3 separate regions of the Homo sapiens genome follow, and regions 2 and 3 are each linked to region 1. The links come from fine-mapping of genetic effects on gene expression. A gene starts in region 1. Each other region holds a variant in brackets. All regions are shown on one strand. Distances are from middle to middle. Region 1 holds the start of NEIL2 (nei like DNA glycosylase 2). Region 2 holds the start of LOC105379243 (a long non-coding RNA gene). Region 3 overlaps XKR6 (XK related 6).

The links. PIP is the estimated chance that this variant, and not a neighbour inherited with it, causes the effect.
Region 2: its variant is fine-mapped to the expression of NEIL2 in fibroblasts (GTEx, PIP above 0.99).
Region 3: its variant is fine-mapped to the expression of NEIL2 in testis (GTEx, PIP above 0.99).

Annotation. Positions count from the first base shown.
Region 1 is chr8:11,767,499-11,774,626 of GRCh38, forward strand. It overlaps NEIL2 (nei like DNA glycosylase 2), which reads left to right and starts at 2,212. Exons shown (of 5, transcript NM_145043.4): 1 at 2,212-2,837; 2 at 3,948-4,087. The coding sequence starts at 3,950. LOC124901888 (a long non-coding RNA gene) reads right to left here and starts at 3,952. Exons shown (of 2, transcript XR_007060824.1): 1 at 3,380-3,952; 2 at 1,304-2,910. RefSeq lists silencers at 2,023-2,432, 2,473-2,602 and an enhancer at 2,362-2,862.
Region 2 is chr8:11,797,615-11,802,614 of GRCh38, forward strand. LOC105379243 (a long non-coding RNA gene) reads right to left here and starts at 3,741. Exons shown (of 3, transcript XR_948962.4): 1 at 3,699-3,741. It also overlaps a transcript of FDFT1 not described here. RefSeq lists enhancers at 2,401-3,044, 3,174-3,916, 3,917-4,658, 4,696-4,855 and silencers at 2,689-2,748, 4,926-5,000. The variant A/AGGGTG (reference allele first, on the strand shown) is at 2,418.
Region 3 is chr8:11,093,073-11,100,200 of GRCh38, forward strand. All of the region lies in intron 1 of XKR6 (XK related 6), which reads right to left. Among named protein-coding and RNA genes, the nearest start is that of MIR598, 61 kb to the left of the region's middle. The variant AC/A (reference allele first, on the strand shown) is at 3,263.

The DNA.
Region 1 (7,128 bases):
GTAGCCCCTAGGGCCGGGCGCGGTGGCTCAAACCTGTAATCCCAGCACTTTGGGAGGCCAAGGAGGGAGGATCACCTAGGTTAGGAGTTCGAGACCAGCCTGGCCAACATGGAGAAACCCTGTCTCTACTAAAAATACAAAAATTAGCTGGGCATGCTTGTGCGTGCCTGTAATCCCAGGTACTTGGGAGGCTGAGGCGGGAGAATCCCTTGAACCCAGGAGGCAGAGGTTGCAGTTAGCTGGGATCGTGCCTGGGTTGCACTCCAGCCTGGGCAACAAGAGTGAAACTATGTCACGGAAAACAAAACAAAACAAAAATGTGGCCCCTAGACCACAGCATCAGCGTCACCCAGCAGCTTGCTGGAAAGGCAACATCTTGGGCCCTGGTATAGACCTTAGAATCTGCATTTAAACAAGGTTCCCAGGGGATTCATAGGTACATTGAAGTTTGAGAAGCGTGGCTTTGTGATATTTCTATAATACCATTTAATAGATATCCCATTTAATGAATGAAGTCAGAGATACTGTGACTTGCTTGTATCCCCACAACTAATAATGAAGCAATATATGCAAAGAGCTCACAACAGTGTTTTGCACATAGTACGCGCTCAATAAACAATAACAATCAATGACAGAGCCAAGCTGTGAACCATGAGATTTTCAATTGCATAGCCCCTTAGCCTCAGAAGAACCCCTTTAGGCACCAGGCATTCATTCCACCAGGTAAGGCGAGGACTGTGGCTACGGCTTCCCTCCCGGCTCAGCCACTCTACAGAAAGAGAAACTAGGGGGCCCAGAAGCTACCATTGTGGTGAGCCTGATCCTATAGCAGGGGCATCCTGGGGGTGGGGGGGTCGTTATTCTCCAGAAAAGGCCGGACATAGAAAGAGGGGGACCAGAGGCTCTTCAAGGGATGCCTCCTGCAAACCCCATGCCCTCCAACCTCATCCCCTCTGCCTCCAGATGCCTTTCTAGATGAGGACCCTATACCCTAGGCCTCCCCAGGCCTCCCTCTCCTCACCTCCTGCCCTAGCCTGTTCAGTAGGTGACCACTGTGGGAAGGCCACTTGTAACCTCCCTCTCAATCAGTAGGACACAACCATGTCTCTGACGGTGGGCTGGGCTTGTTTCCCTGTGCTGACCAAGTCCTTCCCCAGGGACCCCTCAGCTAGGGTCCATGGTGACTTCACCCCAGCCTATTTCCTGAACACCTGCTGGGGAGTTCCCCAGACTTTCCTCCCAACTTCCTGGAAAGTGCTGGCTCCCCATCCTCCTTCGAGAACTAAAGACAAGAAAACATATGTATCTTTAAACAGCCTATTGTTTTATCTCTTTTATTCTATGAAATAAAAAATTTAATACACAAATACTTTAAGCAAAATTTGCTTATAGTAAAAATTCAAGTAATAAAATTCAAATAATAGAAAGCAAAAAAATCCCACCCGTTCAACATTTCACGAGTCTTGAACACCTGTTTCCTTTGCACCCGACTTCATTAGGCTCGGAGGCCAAGCAGAACCCACAGAAAGGCTTGCCATTGTGGGAACACCCAGGCTGTCCCATTCACACACCCATTGACTTTTCCCTATAACTGTCTCCTTGAGACAAGAAATGTTCCAAAAGGGCCGGGTGCGGTGGCTCACGCCTGTAATCCCACCACTTTGGGAGGCCGAGGAGGGCGGCTCACCTGAGATCAGGAGTTCAAGACCAGCCTGGCCAACATGGTGAAACCCGGTCTCTACTAAAAATACAAAAATTAGCCGGGCGCCAGTAATCCCAGCTACTCGGGAGGCTGAGGCAGGAGAATGGCTTAAGCCCAGGAGGCGGAGGTTGCAGTGAGCCGAGATCGCGCCACTGCACTCCAGCCTGGGTGACACAGCGAGACTATCTCCCCCCGCAAAAAAAAAAAGTTTCCAAGAGCGTCTCTCCAATGTTAGTCCCAGCCTGCACCCTTCTTCCATCCCTGCTTTCACTCGCGACCCTCTAATGCAGCCCTGCCTCCAGCGACCCCCGGGATGGAACCCCTCGCCCACCCACAAAAGAGCAGCCTCGACCTAGACCCACTTTCCAGGGAATGAGCCCTGCGCCTGCGCGCACCCCGCCACCCCCTCCAGGCCGGAGTCCACGCCCACTTGGGGGAGGAGCCCCGCAGCCTCCACCTACAGGGGCGTCCCCTAAGGGGACGGAGGCCGCATGGGCCGCCGAGCCGGGAAATCTCCGCCCCCAGCTGGAGCGGCTGTGCGGGCTGCGTAGCGGTGCTGGGTCGGGCCGACGTGCCACCCACCCGGAGCCGGTGAGTGCAGCCGCCCGCCCTCCGGTAGATCTGCGGCCTGGCGGAGAAGTCGGGAGGGGACAGGAAGGGAGGGCGGGCCCCGGGCCCTCCTCCGTCTCAGCCGCCTGCGGAGGTGCTGCCCACGCCTGGAGGCCCCCACTGACCCTCAGACCCGCGTCTGCGCCCCTCTCCCCGCACCCCGAGGCAGAGTTGGGAAAGCAGTGGTCTTAGACCCCCCACCTCGGGCACTCGGAAGAGAACGGCGGAGACAACCCCTCCTCTTCCCTGGCTGGCGCAGCGCCAGCCTCGAGCTCCTCGGTAGCCCCCGGGCAGGGAGGGCCGGAGGGTGGGCGCGGCATCTTCAGCGACTCTTCGAAGTCCCTTCCGCGTCTCATCTTTCAAGGCTGTTGCAGAGGCGGCTTGCTTCCCACCTGTCCATCTCCATAAAAATCCCTAAACGAAACATGCCCACGTGTCCGGAGATTTTCAGGACTTGGTGCATTTCAGATGAAGGCTTTTCCAGAAGCTTCCCCGTAGAAGAGGATCAGGCATCCAACTGGTTAAGGTCAGCAGCGTTTGGCACGTCTCCTTCCAGCCTGGCGGTTTTGTCAGGATTCCCTGGGGAGTGTCTGGAAAGCCTGATGAGGGGAAATAGTACATCTCAGCGAATCGGCACCAGCGAGTGTAAGATGCGCGTTATTGAATGTGCTGCTGCCGAATATGAGAATGCCGAGATTGTGAGCCGTCACCATTTCTTAGATTTTAAAAGTATTCTAAAATGTTTTTTAGAATCACTGAAATATAATAGCTACCCCCTGCCCGATATCTACTTAGTTCTTTTCGATTTTCATCATAACTTATAGAGAGGCTGGTGCAGGAACAGGTGGTTAGGCAGCTGCCCCGGGTGAGGCTGGGAGTCTCCTCTGCCCGAACAGCCCGGGTGTACACCACTCAGACTGCCTCATGTAGGCGGCTGTCAGTGGACTGGGATGATTTGGGGGCAGGGAGAGTAGAGGTGGCCCTGGGAGCCCTGCGTGGTGATTAGAACAGAACCACAGCTGTTTCTCGGGGATCAGAGATAACTGTCTGTAGCTATGCCGGGCTTACCTACGTGGCTGGGGGTCTCACTTATGATTCTGAGCTCTGTCTGCGTGTTGGTCGTTTCATGCACACCTCCCCCACGCTAGTGGTCGGCGGTCCTGGAGGGCGGCATCTGGTCCCTTCAAAAGTGGGAAATAAGTCGGCAGCAGTGGGTCAGAATGGCTGTTTTTTGAGAGCGGGAGCAGGGGGACAGAGAAAGTCAGGAGGTGTTAGAGGTTCACAGTCCAGGCAAAAAGTAACAAAGGCCAGCTCCTGGTGTGGCAGGTGCCGCTCAGGAATAAAGTGGATGGTGCCCATGATGTGCTGCCTAGCACACTGTTGGTGCTTAATAAGTGTTTGCTGCATGAAGAAAGGTAAGAGGGGCTGCCTTTCCTGCTACGTTTCCCACACCCTGCCACAGCTGCTCTTCTCTATGATCTGACCGCCTCCCAGCCACACTCCCTTTTTGGCCATGCTTGCTCTTAAAGTTAGTTGGCAGCAAAAATGGCGGCATGGAGGATGCTTGGCACCTGTTAAAGATGCTAGAGATAAATGAGCTAAGTCGGTGGCCTCTTTTGCCCATTTCTGCCCACAGGGATGCCAGAAGGGCCGTTGGTGAGGAAATTTCACCATTTGGTCTCCCCCTTTGTGGGTCAGCAGGTGGTCAAGACAGGGGGCAGCAGTAAGAAGCTACAGCCCGCCAGCCTGCAGTCTCTGTGGCTCCAGGACACCCAGGTGAGGTAATACTCCTCTGAAGGGTTGGCTCTGTCGCCCATCCTGCGCCTCCCCTAGGATCTATCCCCATATGTCTCAGGGTGTCACTTCCCTGAGTCCGGAACCACCAAGCTCGGACTCCATGCAGCTCCCTCTTTCAGTCTCACGTGTCTCAGCCAGAAGTAGATATCGCTGTGGACTGTAGAACTGTAAAGAACACGTGTGGATGAGCTGGAGACCCCGATTCAGAGGGTCTGGAGTGCTCCTATTCTCTCCGGCCGCAGCTGATGGGCACCTTTGGCTGGGAACTGTGTTCTATTCCCCTGAGCCAGTGGAGAATTAAGGACAGAGCAGAACCGGCTGGGCACGGTGGCTCGCACCTGTAATCCCAGCACTTTGGGAGGCCGAGGCGGGTGGATCACTAGGTCAGGAGTTCAAGACCAGCCTGGCTAACATGATGAAACCCCGTCTCTACTAAAAATGCAAAAATTGGCTGGGTGTGGTGGTGGGCGCCTGTAATCCCAGCTGCTCGGGAAGCTGAGGCAGGAGAATTGCTTGAACCCGGGAGGCCGAGATTGCAGTGAGATGAGATTGTGCTACTGCACTCCAGCCTGGGTGACAGAGTGAGACTCCGTCTCAAAAAAAAGAAAAGAAAAGAGCAGAACCTTCAGATCTAGGTTCAAACCAGCTCATCCTTCCAGGGGCTCACGGAGCTCCCTGTTTTCTCACCACTGCCTCCCTCTCTAGCCTTCTTATCCTGCCCCAAACCTGTCTTCTGATCGATGAAACTGCCTTTGGCTCTTCTTAGTGTTTCTGTCCGTGGTTTTCACTTGCTGCCCCCTGCTCAAGCACTTCTTCCTTTTTCTCCCAACTCTGCCCCTGTTCCCTCAATTTATAATGGTAATTCCTGGTCTTCCAGCTTCCACTTGGCCATTGCATCCTCAGAGAAGCCTGCCCTGTCTGCTTTAGGTGGGAAGGAGACTCCATCTCTGTGCTTCCAGGACATCATGTACTTCCTCCTGTTCTTCCCTTTTTACTGAGTTGTTCTGCTTGTTGAGGGGAGAGGACAGATGCAGAGGGCAGGGGCTGCTCCTCGCCAGTATTGTGCCCCCAGCACTTAGCTGAGTGCCGGCACGTAGGAAGCACGGGTGGTGCCTGTGGATGAGCTCACGCGCTCTGCTGCTGCTTAGCCGTGTGCTCTTAAGCATGTTCATCTCATAGCTCTTTCTTCTATTGTAGAATGGAGATAAGCCATTGACCTCTTAAAGTTGTTGTTTTAAGTAGAGTTTATGCCTGGCACATAACGGGTACTCCATAAGTACTAGTTCCCTTTCTTCCATCTTGCCCTCACCCCCCACCCCCGCAACACACACACACAGAGGTTTTAAAACCGTTGTTAGTTAGAACTGGAAGAGATCCTGTAGCCCTGTACCCATAGTTGATTCCTTTGGAGACTGAGGCTCGGAGAAGGGAGTACTTAGCCCAAGCTCAGGTGGCTGGCAAGGAACAGGTGAGAGCACGGGGTCCCATGGCCTCCAGGACTGTGGCCTCTTTGTACACACTGTCCTTCGAGGTTTGCAGGGGCAGAATTGTCTCTTGTCTCTGGATCCCCAGCACTTACCAGGGTGTCTGCCACAGAGCTGGCTGTAAGAGAATATTTCCCAAGTGGATGGGTGGGCAGATGGATGTGCGGTGAAGGAACCCGTAGACGGGACTGGGAGCTGCTTTCCCAGTAAACCAAGCAGAAAACCATGTTGCAGGGAACCTAAGGTTGCAGGGAACCTTCGGGGCTGCCTGGCAGTGCTTTGAAGTGAGCGCCCTTCCCTGCTTCTCCCTGTCGGCGGGTCCCTGACCCTAGGAACTTAGAACTGAATTGAGAACATACGGCTTGTATCGACACAGGCCACACTATTAAGCTATGCTAAATGGGGAGGGCAGAGCACATCATAAAGGCCCAGGTAATGACCCTGACAGGAAGAGGTCCCGGTGGCCTGGAGAAGATGTGCAGGAGGTAGGACTTGAGTTGGGCCTTGAAGGCTGGAGGATTTCAGTGGACTGAAGAGGGAGGAAAGGGCATTTCAGGCTTGAGAAGCAGTTACAGGCGGGCCGATGGAGGTGGAGTGAGCAGGGTGAGTTGATGAGGCAGGAGGGAGCTTGGCTGCACTCTGTGCCATCTGTTTGTCTGGCACATCCTTTTCTTGTCAGCTCTCCATTTTCTATATAGGAGTTGTGTTGGATTACTCATAACAGACTCAGAAAAATGGCTACTCTAGCTCATGGTTTTCTCCTCCTCCAGTAATGGAACAGTCCAGGGTGGTATAGGAGCAACATTGGAAACCAAGCTCCTTCTACTCTCCCCTTCCAAGACTGGGTAATTTATGAAGGAAAGAGGTTTAATGGACTCACAGTTCTGCATGGCTGGGGAGGCCTCGCAATTATGGCAGTAGGCGAAGGGGAAACAAAGGCACATCCTACATGGTGGAAGGCAAGAGAGCTTGTGCAGGGGAATTACCATTTATAAAACCGTCAGGCCAGGTGCAGTGGCTCATGCCTGTAATCCCAGCACTTTGGGAGGCAGAGGTGGGCAGGTCGCCTGAGGTCAGGAGTTTGAGACCAGCCTGGCCAACATGTTAAACCCCATCTCTACTAAAGATGCACAAATTAGCTGGGCATGGTGGTGGGCGCCTGTAATCCCAGCTACTTGGGAGGCTGAGGCAGGAGAATTGCTTGAACCCAGGAGACAGAGGTTGCAGTGAGCTGAGATCGCACCTGCGCTCCAGCCTCAGCAACAGAGTGAGACTCCATCTGAAAAACAACAACAACAAAAAACCCATCAGATCTCTTGAGACTTATTTACTATCACGAGAACAGCCCCCATGATTCAATTACCTCCCACTGGGTACCTCCCACCAGGTCCGTCCCATAACACATGGGAATCATGGGAGTTATATTATTCCACCCCCAGGCCCTTCCAAAGCACAAGTCCTCACATTTCAAAACCAATCATGCCTTCCCAACAGTCCCCAAAAGTCTTAATTCATTTCAGCATTAATTTAATAGGC
Region 2 (5,000 bases), 29 kb after region 1:
CCTGTCTGTCTCTCACACACACTCAAAAAAAAAAAAAAAAAAAAAAGAAACAAACAAAAAAAACGGTGGGGGAGGGGAACAGATAAAGGAGAGGCCAGGAAACACCAGAAAAGGATTCCTGAAGCAGATTCCACCTGAGCTGTAATGGAGGCGTGGCAGGTGGCTAGGCAAGGAGCAGGAAGCCTATTCCAGGCAGGTGAATTGCTTGGGCCAAGGCCGGATGTGAAGTACTGTAGCCTGTTCGGGGGACAATAAGTGCTGCTAGGACTGGATCAGGGTGTGAAAGTAGTACAAGAATGGGTGGACAGGAGGCTGAAATCCCAACAAAGGATGTAGATGCCAAATGGCAAGGACGTTTTTATTCTATGCCAGAAGGCTTGATTTCCTTTAAATCAATCCATTGATTCGAAGACATTTCATTGGAGGAATTTAAAATGGAAGGATTATAATCAAGTGTGTGTTTTTATTTTTTATTTTTTTGAGACGGAGTCTCACTTTGTTGCCCAGGCTGCAGTGTGGTGTGGTGATCTCGGCTCGTGGGTTCAAGCGATTCTCCAGCCTCAGCCTCCCGAGTAACTGGGATTACAGGCACCCACAACCACGCTCAGCTAATTTTGGTATTTTTAGTAGAGACGGGGTTTCACCATGTTAGCCAGGCTGGTCTCAAAGTCCTGACCTCAAGTGATCCGCCTGCATTGGTCTTCCCAAGTGCTGGGATTACAGGTGTGAGCCACTGCACCCAGCCCAGTGTGTGTTTTAGACGAATAACTCTACCTGCCATATGGGAAAGGACAGGGGAAGTCAACTTCAACATGGTTTGGGAAAGAAGATGTGGCTTAAACCAAGATGGAGCAGAGAGGAGAGATTAAAATGAAAGGTATTTGTTTTCTTGGACTCCACAGGACTTGATGAATGATTTTGAAGGGGTGGATATAAGGAGAGAAAGGGCGTTATCAATGACACCTGGATTTTGTGATTACAAAACTGAGAGGCTGTTAACGCTATCCACAGGAGAAGCAGATTTAATGGAAGAGAGATTTAAAGAATGGGCACGTTAACTAACTTTGCATTGTTTAGGCACCATCGTGTCCTATACGCAGCTCAATTCAATAAATACTCATTGAGCACCCAATAAATATTCATTGAGCCAGTATGTGCTGGGCACTATTCCAGATGGTTGAGGGGACATTAGTGAGCAAAACAAAGGTGTGTCGTCACTGAGCTTAGATTTCTAGTGTTGACTTAAAAAATATGATTTATCAATTTAGAAAGGGAGAAGAGCCTTTATTTCTTCTAAAGGGTTACAGCATGCTTCCAGCTTAGACCACAGACGGGCACTTTGAAGGAAAAGGCGTTTGAGGTAGGAGCTTTATGCTGACTGGGTTGGCTAAACGTACATATTTAACAGATTACAAGAGGAGCTACGAATATTTATGATGGCGGACCTGACACATTGAACAAACATGTATGTAATATATGACCCATATTCACTTTGGGATAGAGACTCAACATGTGAATGCATTACAATTACACCCTATAGGTCAAAAGGTCTTTTTAGGACAGGAAGGCGCCTTGAGTGTACAGTTTCTGTAAACTGGCCAGACCAGTCCACGGTCGGCGGTCTTATCAGGAGAAAGTTACTGAGATCAATCTCTTGACCAGTCAAAGCTGTAGTTATGGCTGGTGGAACAGGGGTTCAATTAGTCACTGTCTGGTGGAGCTGCAGGTGTTTTACTATTGCTTATCTCAAGGCCAGCGTTTAGCTGCTGGAGAAAAAGAAGAGCCCTGTGGCAGTTAGAGCTTAGTTGATTCTTCAAGTGTAGGGGTGCCTGACTTCACCATTGCCTGCATGGCCTTAGGTCCTGTTTATAATTGGGTATCTTATTGCCACAGAGTCTGTTCCGTTAGTCTTATGATCTCTGTTTTAATGTTAATGCCAGCCAGTTGTGTATGAACTCCAAAAGGAAGGGGGTACAATGAGGGCTATCTGATCTCCTGTCCCGTTATTTGAAATGCTTTTTCCCTGGTGCTGGAAAGAAATAGCACTTGTAGGCTGGGAGCCGTGGCTCACGCCTGTAATCCCAGTACCTGGGGAGGCTGAGGCGGGCGGATCACGAGGTCAAGAGATTGAGACCATCCTAACCAACATGGTGAAACCCTGTCTCAACTAAAAATAAAAAAATTAGCTGGCCGTGGTGGTACATGCCTGTAGTTCCAGCTACTCGGGAGGCTAAGGCAGGAGACTCACTTGAACCTGGGAGCCAGAGGTTGCAGTGAACCAAGATCGCGCCACTGCACTCCAGCCTCACGACAGAGTGAGACTCCATTTAAAAAAAAAAAAAAAATGAAGAAGAAATAGCACTCGAAGGCTGGGCGCAGTGGCTTGCCTGTAATCCTAGCACTTTGGGAGGCCGAGG[A/AGGGTG]GGGTGGATCATGAGGTCAGGAGTTCAAGACCAGTCTGGCCAACATGGTGAAACCCTGTCTCTACTAAAAATCGAAAAATTACCCAGGCGTGGTGGTTGGGCGCCTGTAATCCCAGCTACTCGGGAGGCTGAGGCAGGAGAAGCACTTGAACCCAGAAGGCAGAGGTGGCAGTGAACCGAGACTGTGCCACTGCACTCCAGCCTGGCAACAAGAGTGAAATTCTGTCTCAAAAAAAAAAAAAAAAAAAAAAAAAAAAAAAAGGCGCTTGAACATTAATTTACTAAGCAGGCCATTTTTACTTCCTGCAGAAAGGGTACACTCGCCAGCAGTTTTGCCATGGGAGTATACCAAACAAAGGAGACAGGGTCATTTATAACCTGACTCGTCCACCCCACTGCTTGTGTCTAGTTTCCATTGGCTGGAACGGTGCCTCACGTTCTGTATTTGTCCCGATTGGCTAGCAACTTAGAAGTTTTTAAAAGAGGCAAAGGTAGAGGAGAACAAAGGAAGGAGGAAGTAACTTGTGGAATGGTGACAAAGGTTGAAACACCTTCAAATAAGGAAGAGGAACAGGCTATGACCTAATGCTTTCTTGGACCACTATAAGCATGCCAGGGCAAATATTTAGGCTAAATTGTGAGAGCTAAGAACATGAAGTACATTGATTTCTTTATCATAGCTAGCAGATATTTAAGAATGTTAGCACAGGTCTTTGAATAAAGTTTGCTTCTAAGAGAAGTTACTATTTATTCCTAATTAAATGGGGAGGAAAGTCTTTGAAGAGGAACCTCTACTTTACTTTTTATACCGTCATGGCTGGAAACTAAGTTTTTAAGATTTTTCTGGGGTTCCCTTGGCCGAGGTGGGGAGTGGGAGGGCTGTCCAGTGGTAGGGACTTAGGATTTTTAGTTTACAGTAGTAGGGGAAACACTCTGTAATCTAATACATAAGTAAATGATGTATTAGAATATGGTAAATATAGGCAAGTAGACCCCCACTGGGATTAGCAGTGGTGGAAATGTGAGAGAGGGCAAACAGGTGGGTCTAGATGAGGTGTGAGCAGACTCGAGGGGCACAGGAGTTAGTCAAGCCAGTATCTGGGGGATAGTGCAGGAATAGTGAACAGCTAGACAAAAAGTCCTAGGGCCAGAGAAAGCAAAAGCATAAGAGATGGAGGCCAGAGAGGTAATCTGGGTGGAAGGCTGCAGCCTCTCAGGATCCCTATAGGTGCTTTGGCTTTTGTTGGAGAGACACTGAACAGCTTTGGGCAGTGAACGTACCTGACAGGTTTCCTGTTTGTTTTTGAGATGAAGTCTCGCTCTTGTCCCCCAGGCTGGAGTGCAATAGCGCGATCTCAGCTCACTGCAACCTCTGCCTCCTGTGTTCAAGCGATTCTCCTGCCTCAGCCTCCCAGGTAGCTGGGATTATAGGCGCCTGCCACCATGCCTGGCTAATTTTTGTATTTTTAGTAGAGACGCAGTTTCAGCATGTTGGCCAGGCTGGTCTTGAACTCCAGACCTCAGGTGATCCGCCCGCCTTGGCCTCCCAAAGTGCTGGGATTACAGGCATGAGCCACCGCGCTCGGCTAGACCTGACAGGTTTTAAAAGGATTACTGGTTGCTGTGTTAAAACAGACTGCAGGATGGCTTAGGTAGCCAGTAGGTTTTTTTTTTTTTTTGGAGACGTAGTCTTGCTCTGTTGGCCTGGCTGGAGTGCAGCGGTGTCATCTTGGCTCACTGCAAACTCCGCTTCCCGGGTTCAAGTGATTCTCCTGCCTCAGCCTCCGGAGTAGTTGGGACTACAGGCGCCCACCACCACACTCGGCTTTTTTGTATTTTTAGTAGAGACGGGTTTCACCATGTTGGCCAGGATGGTCTCGATCTCTTGACCTCGTGATCCACCCGCCTTGGCCTCCCAAAGTGTTGCGATTACAGGCGTGAGCCACCACGCCTGGACGGGTAGCCAGTAGTTTCTAGGGCTGGAGAGATCTAGGATGAGAGAAGTTTCCACATTCCTGTTACAGGCTCTCTAAGGCTTCAGCTCCTTTTTCTAGGACTAAGCTGGATCTCAAGTAAACACTAGAGAGGGGGCAGCTGAAGCTCCAGGAGTGTGTGGGGCTCCCTGGGGCTGGATGGCGGTGGCGGGCAGGCGAGCTGGGCTGTGCTCGGGTGTGTTACAGTAAAGACGCCCAGCTTGGCGCTGGCCCGGCCTTTTCACGGTTTTAGGCTCTACAGAGAGCGGCTGCAGAGCTCACCCGGCTGGCAGGAGCCACCGAGGCCGGACACGTGGGCGACTTATTGACCAAGTGGGGAGGAAGCAGCCCCGCACTGCTCTCCCGACTGCGGACCACCGTTGGGCTCCTGCGCATCCTAAGCCCCACCGCCTCACCTCCAGTCCCCACAGCGTTCGCGCTCCCAGCCGGGGTAAGCGGAAGAAAACAAAGGCCCGGCTCCATCAGGGCACCAATCCCGCTCGTCGGCCTCTTTCTCGGCCTCCAATGAGCTTCTAGAGTGTTATCACGCCAGTCTCCTTCCGCGACTGATTGGCCGGGGTCTTCCTAGTGTGAGCGGCCCTGGCCAATC
Region 3 (7,128 bases), 670 kb before region 1:
TAGACGGAGTTTCACTCTTGTCAATCAGGCTGGAGTGCAATGGTGTGATCTCGGCTCACTGCAACCTCCACCTCCCGGGTTCAAACGATTCTCCTGCCTCAGCCTCCCAATTAGCTGGGAACACAGGCGTGTGCCACCATGCCCGGCTAATTTTGTATTTTTAGTAGAGACAGGCTTTCACCATGTTGACCAGGCTAGTGTCGAACTCCTGACCTCGGGTGATCCGCCCACCTCGGCCTCCCAAAGTGCTGAGATTTCAGGAGTGAGCCACCACGCCCAGATCTTCCCCAGCTTTCTAGCCCAGCTTTTATCTCAAGTCAAAGCCTCACCCACTGCCCTTAGCACGAAGATGGCTATGCAAGAAAAACTTTTCTGCGAGCAGTTCTGGTGCTTCCCTGCTCCCCGCACTCCACTGTGGGTGGCGTCTTGTGCCAGCAGCACTTAGTGCCCGGCCACATCCTTAGTCTCTTAGTTATAATAGCCAGATGTTGGCAACATGGTCCTTTTCTTCTTCTTGAAATTCTCTAAGATGCCTTCAAATTTAGTTTAAGTATTTTATACTTAAATATTGGAAAAGGATATAAAAACTAGTGAATAACTACTTCAAGTCACGCCTATCTTTCCCTTTTTTCATTTCTTATAAGAAATAAATGTACTCTCTATAATTCAAAATTTACCCTTTATACTTCAGGGTCTTTACATTATGTAATTTTTTTTGTTTGTTTTTTTGAGATGGAGTCTCGCTCTGTCGCACAGGCTGGAGTGCAGTGGCGTGATCTCGGCTCACTGCAAGTTCTGCCTCCCGGGTTCACGCCATTCTCCTGCCTCAGCCTCCCAAGTAGCTGGGACTACAGGTGTCCGCCACCACGCCAGACTAATTTTTTGTATTTTTAGTAGAGATGGGGGTTTCACCGTGTTAGCCCGGATGGTCTCGATCTCCTGACCTCATGATCCACCCGCCTCGGCCTCCCAAAGTGCTGGGATTACAGGCGTGAGCCACCGCGCCCGGCCTTTTTTTTTTTTTGACAGAGTCTTGCTGTGTCGCCCAGGCTGGAGTGCCGTGGTCATATCCTAGATCCACTGAATCAGAAAACGTTTTTTAAAAAGACTTTCCATAAGCCCACAAACTTACAAAGGAGCAGAGCCAAGTTGCACATGATATATACATATATATGTATGTATCTCGGCTCACTGCAACCTCTGTCTCCGGGGTTCAAGCGATTCTCCTGCTGCAGCCTCCTGAGTACCAGCGATTACAGGTGTGCACCACCATGCCCAGCTAATGTTTTGTATTTTTGGTAGATAAGGGATTTCACTATGTTGACCAGACTGGTCTGAAACCCCTGGCCTCAAGTGATCGTCCCCCTTCAACCTCCCAAAGTGCTGGGAGTACAGGCCAGAGCCACTACACCCGGCCATTATCTACTTTTCATTTGGGGGCATTTGTAATTTCCCTCTCAAATGGATCAGAGGACCTCAGAAACAGAAAGGGACTTCTCCTGGGAACCCTCTGTCTCCCAAATACCCCACTTCAAATCATCCACTGCAGTGCACAGACTGGGGGCTGGTGGGACCGACATCGATGGAGTGGTTACTAGCAGCCAGACACTAGGCAGATGACCACACCTATCATCCTCACAGACCTCTGGGGTGGCATCAACGTCAGCATTGTCAATGTCATCATCAGCATCATCATTTCTGAGGCTCCAAGATTCCCAAGTTACTTACCCAAAGCCCAGGCCTGCCTGCACCTTCCCTCTCCTCTCCTGCAGACTGACTGCTGCTTCTTTAAAACACAGAATGCCACTAAAAAATAGGCTGAAGGAGGGAGAGCATCAGGAAGAGCAGCTAGTGGGTGCTGAGCTTAATACCTGGGTGATGGGATGCTCTGTGAAGCAAACCACCACGGCACATGCTAACCTATGTAACAAACCTGCACATCCTGCACATGTACCTCTGAACTTAAAGTAAAAGTTGGAAAGAAAAAAAGTAGGCTGATACAAAGGCAAATTTCCTTATAAAATCTTTAACGAGAAAGCCTGCAGCTCCAGGCTAGAGAAACAGGGATGTATTTTCAATATTAACTCATGAGTAGCGTTCAAGTTTGTGCAAATACGTAAGTGGACATTTTTGGTTGACTTTCTTTCCCCAAACTGCAAATATTATCTGCAAGGTCAACCCTCCATCTCAAATGAGATTCTGCTATATATCAAACAGCAATGAATCTTGGTTTTAAGAATTATATGAATGTAAGGTATTCTTAAATATATTGTATCTTCTAAGTTTTTTCTTTTTAAGAAGCTACTTGCTGTAGTGTTAGTAACACCTAAGACAAGCATGAGAATCAGCATGGAAGTCAGAAATGATCACATGCCAGTCAAATAGGTAACACTGACTTGTGAGACTGGTGCTTTTAGGCACCAGTGCAATTTTGCAGGGGCTCCCCCAGCACACACTGTTCTGAATCTCCTTTCTTCTGGAAGCTAGAATGACAGCCTGATTCTCCTAGTGAACAGATGTACTGACTGTGACAAAACGCACCCGCCATGCCAATAAATCTAATGAGTAACTCAAGCCAAAATATATATGTATATATCATGTGCAACTTGGCTCTCCTCCTTTGTAAGTTTGTGGGCTTATGGAAGGTCTTTTTCAAAAACATTTTCTGATTCAGTGGATCTGGGATATGACCCAGGCACTGGTAACATTTAAAAGCTCAAACGGGTGATTCTGATGCATATATCTGGTTAAGACTAGACCACATTTAATTCATGGTTGTATGTTCCTCAAAACACTTGCTGCCAATTAGTAATTCCACTGTTTTCCAATTAAGTCTATGATTAAAACTAACTTTAATTGTCATTTTATTTTTGGATTGGGAAGACATTTTTAACCACAAGAGCAGAAGAAAGCATAAAATAAAAACTTGACAAATTTGACTAGATAAAAGTAAACTTTTCTGAATGTCAAAAATGCTATCAACAAAGCTAAAGAATAAATGAGGGAAAATATATGTACCAGTGACAAAAGTTAATAATTCATCCAACAGATATTTTTAAAATATCTTTTGAATTGGTGATTCCACTTCTCAGTATTTACCCTAAGGAAATAAGCAGAGATGTATACAAAGATTCAGTACAAGGATACTTCCTTGCAGCATAACCTATTACATAATAAGAAACAGGCTAAAAGTTCATCAGTAACAGATGCCTGGATAAGCTGGCATGCATCCATCTGATGGAATGCCAACTTGTCAACAAAT[AC/A]TTTTAAATCTTATCTCAAAATTTGGTGGAACATTCAAATAGTTTTACACGGAAGAGTAGGTTACAAAACTTTAATAATAAAAATAATTTTACAGTTTCCTTTAATTTCTAATTTTTTGCAGTGAACATGTATTATGTTTTTAACAAAACACCATTAGAATACTGCACAACGAAGGCATTGGTGTATCTGAACTGAATAAGGTATCAGACGGATCAAAGCTTTCCATGCTACCATTGCACTCCTCAGTGGCAAATGCTTGGAAAAGGAAGATGGACCGATGTTAGTCAAGCAGCCTTTTCCTGGAAAAAGTAACCATGAGAGTCAAAGGCCCCCATGAGGTCCACTTTGCCCCACATCCCATCAACCCAGGACAGGCAGGCCTCCTGCCAACAGCTGGGTCCTTGGGCTCCAGCCGACAAAGTCTACAACTGACTTCCATGTTGGTGTCTTCTTATCTTTGTATTGCAGTTTTTAGCTGTTTTTCAACAAATACCATATGAAGAATATGCATACTCAAGACCTCACTGAATGTCACCCAAACACCAAATGAAAATCTAGCTGGAATGAAGACATTTGGTTTCAGGATGGCAGATTCTGAGAGATTTCGCCCACTTGCATATGATTTGCACATCCTTTGTACCATCTGATGAGAACGGTGTGCTCCATCAATCAATGCCACTGAGTTCTCAAGTTTCAGTTCCATCCAGAAGATGGAAGGTTGCCTAGAGTCAAGTTAAATCTGATTTCCTCAGAGATAGTCAAGTAAGTTTGTCATCAGCAACAGGACACTTGCCATCTGACATGGCAAGGCTAAGAACTCTCATATAGACTTTGTCTCCTTAGCCCACTTGGTCCCACTCATAAGCCCTCAAGAGACACAAAGTGATAATAAAAGTATTTGTGTATTTTCCCCATTGGGTTTCCAGAAATGTCATTTTCGTCACACCCTCCCACTCACCACTTCTACATTCAGGATGCAATACTGCAGCCAGAGTTGGTACAATGCAAACATTCCACGAGAAGTTAGAAAACTTGGGTTCCAGCATAAACTTGAGCAATATGCCACTTTGAACCCATTTTCTTATGTGTAAAAGTAGATAATACCAGCACTGCTGAACACACAGGGCAATATTTTCTTTTTTTTTTTAAAAAAAAAAAGGCAATAAATATTGGTTAAAAAAATTATACAGGCTGGGTGCGGTGTCTCACACCTGTAATCCCAGCACTTTGGGAGGCCGGGGTGGGCGTATCAACCGAGGTCAGGAGTTCAAGACTAGCCTGGTCAACATGGTGAAACCCCATCTCTACTAAAAATACAAAATTAGCCGGGCGTGGTGGTGCACACCTGTGGTCCCAGCTACTTGGGAGGCTGAGGCAGCAGAATCGCTTGAACCCAGGAGGCGGAGGCTGCAGTGAGCCAAGATCACGCCACCGCACTCCAGCCTGGGGGACAAGAGCTAGACTCCATCTCAAAAAAAAAAAAAAAAAAAAATTATACAAATGTAAAGTATTACTAAATACATCGTAAATTCTACAGTTTTTTTTTTTAAAGCTATTTGCTATAGTGTTAGTAACATCTAAGGCAAGATGAGAATTCACGTGGAAGTCAAAAATAATCACATGCCCATCAAATACGTAATATCAACTGGTGAGACTGGTGATTTCTGGGAACCGGTGCAATTTTGCAGGGGGGCTCCCCCAGCATACACTGTTGTGAAAGTTGTTGGCAAGCTAGAGCCTTGCTAGGCTCTGCAGTTTACAGACCAGCAGCACTGGCTTCGACTTCCGGCTTGTTAGGAAGGCAGAATCCCACGACCCACTCCAGAAATACCGAATTGGAATCTGCAATTGAACTAGATCCCCAGGTGACTCTCTCACACACACACACGCACTCACACACGCACAACACACACACACGCATGCACACACACATGCACGACACACAGGCGCGCGCGCACACACACACAAAGTTTGAGGACTGAGCTGGAGGCCTGTCAATCCTGGTAGCATTATTTCTAAGAGCTGGTACGTGAGCAAGAGGACCCAGTGGACTCGGTGAACTTGAGGTCCTATTTTTAGCAGTCTCGAGTTTTTCCTGACGCTACTAATGCTGTGTGTACTTCTCACTCACGGAATACGAGGTGTCAGAAAGCACAATTTGGAACTGTATCTTGGTAATTTCACAACTGGGACAGGAACTCTTGTCTCATCAGAACTATGCCGAAAAGCTTTCTCCATAGGCTAGGATGACTATGTGGTCATGCATGTTTGAATTATGTTCCTGTTTCCAATTAAATATCCCTTACAGAAAGGTTCAAGGTACCTCTTTTATAGTATGTGGAAAGTTTATTTTTGAATAATTTATTTATTGCTTGCACAAGTGATAAGAACCTCTTAGAAATCTTGTTCCCTTAACTATTAGTCTATTCACATTCTTGGACGAATAAAAAGCTTTACTTTCTTTTGAATCTTAAGTGGGGCTAGGAGGGAGAAATACAAATTCTGTTCTGTTTCAAAAGTTGGTTTTAAATAGACTTTGCATCTTGGAAACTTCTGGAACATTCCCCCATGGAAAAAAAAATGATTATTAGGTTCTGAATTGAGCTCATGTAGGTGTAACATAGAAAGGGGTATTAATAAGAATTTTCTTTATGGGTATAGTCTAGGAGAATAATGAGCTTCTTCCCCCTTCCCTAGCCCCTGGGCACCCTCAACGCCCCACCAGGTAGGCACGCTGTCCATTTTCGCCCTCCTCTGTCCAAAAAGCAGCAGCTGCCACCTCCCTGGGAAGAGGCAGGCACCCTATTACAGCTCCCGCTCCACTGAACCACATCTCCTTTCTTCAGATCTCTTCTCTTAGCTGGGTACAGCAGGAGGGCAATCGTCCAACCAAAGTCACATCGAAAATCTGGAAGCTTGGCAAGGCTGTCCAGCTGACTTTTGTCACCCTGGCCTCTAACACAATAGCCACACCATTGCTGCTGCCCAATAAATACCTGTTAAATGGCTGAATCTACTAAAACATTTTTAAAAGATGATGCTTATCATTAGCACAAGTCAACCTCCAACTGGGGGAATTTTAGGCTCTGGCTTCAAGTGAAAATTCTGGGAGAGAAGGGGCTGGAGGCAGGAATGGCACTGCTGGGCAGGGCAGCCCTGCCTGGAGAGCGAGCTCTGAGATCAGCTCCTCTCTTACAGTCGCTGGATTTTTTTCATAACTCCTTTACTTTCTTTACTTCTAAATCCACATTCTTTAAAATCTCCAAGTTTCCTTGCAACTCCCTAGGCAAGGGCAATGAAGGATTTACTCATTCACTCGCTCAAATATTATATAGGTATTGAATTTCTAATGTGTCTCACGCATTGTTCTAGGTCTTGAAAAAACAGCCACCAACAAAACAAAGCCCCTGCCCTCCCTGAGCATATATTTAGCGGAGGAGACAAAACTATAATGTGAGGTCATGATGGAGGTGATGAGGAAGTTAAGGGAGACCATGGCAGAGGTGCCACTCTAGACAGGCTGGGCAGAGCCCTCTCTGCGGAGGAGACAATTTAGCAGAGATGGAGCCATAAGCACATGGGGAGGAGCATCCTAGACAAAGCGAGCAGCAAATGCAAGGGCCCTGAGGCACGGGGGAGTAGGGCACCCTAGCGGGTTGGGCGCTGGGAGGGAGAGGGGGTGCAGCCAGTTTAAGTAGGGCTCATTTTTTTTCTTTTCATTTTGTTTTGTTTTGAGGCAGGGTCTAACTCTGTCGCCCAGGGTGGAGTGCAGTAGCACAATCTCAGCTCACTGCAGTCTCGACCTCCCCAGACTCAGGCGATCCTTCCACTTCAGCCTCCCAAGTAGCTGGGACTACAGGCATA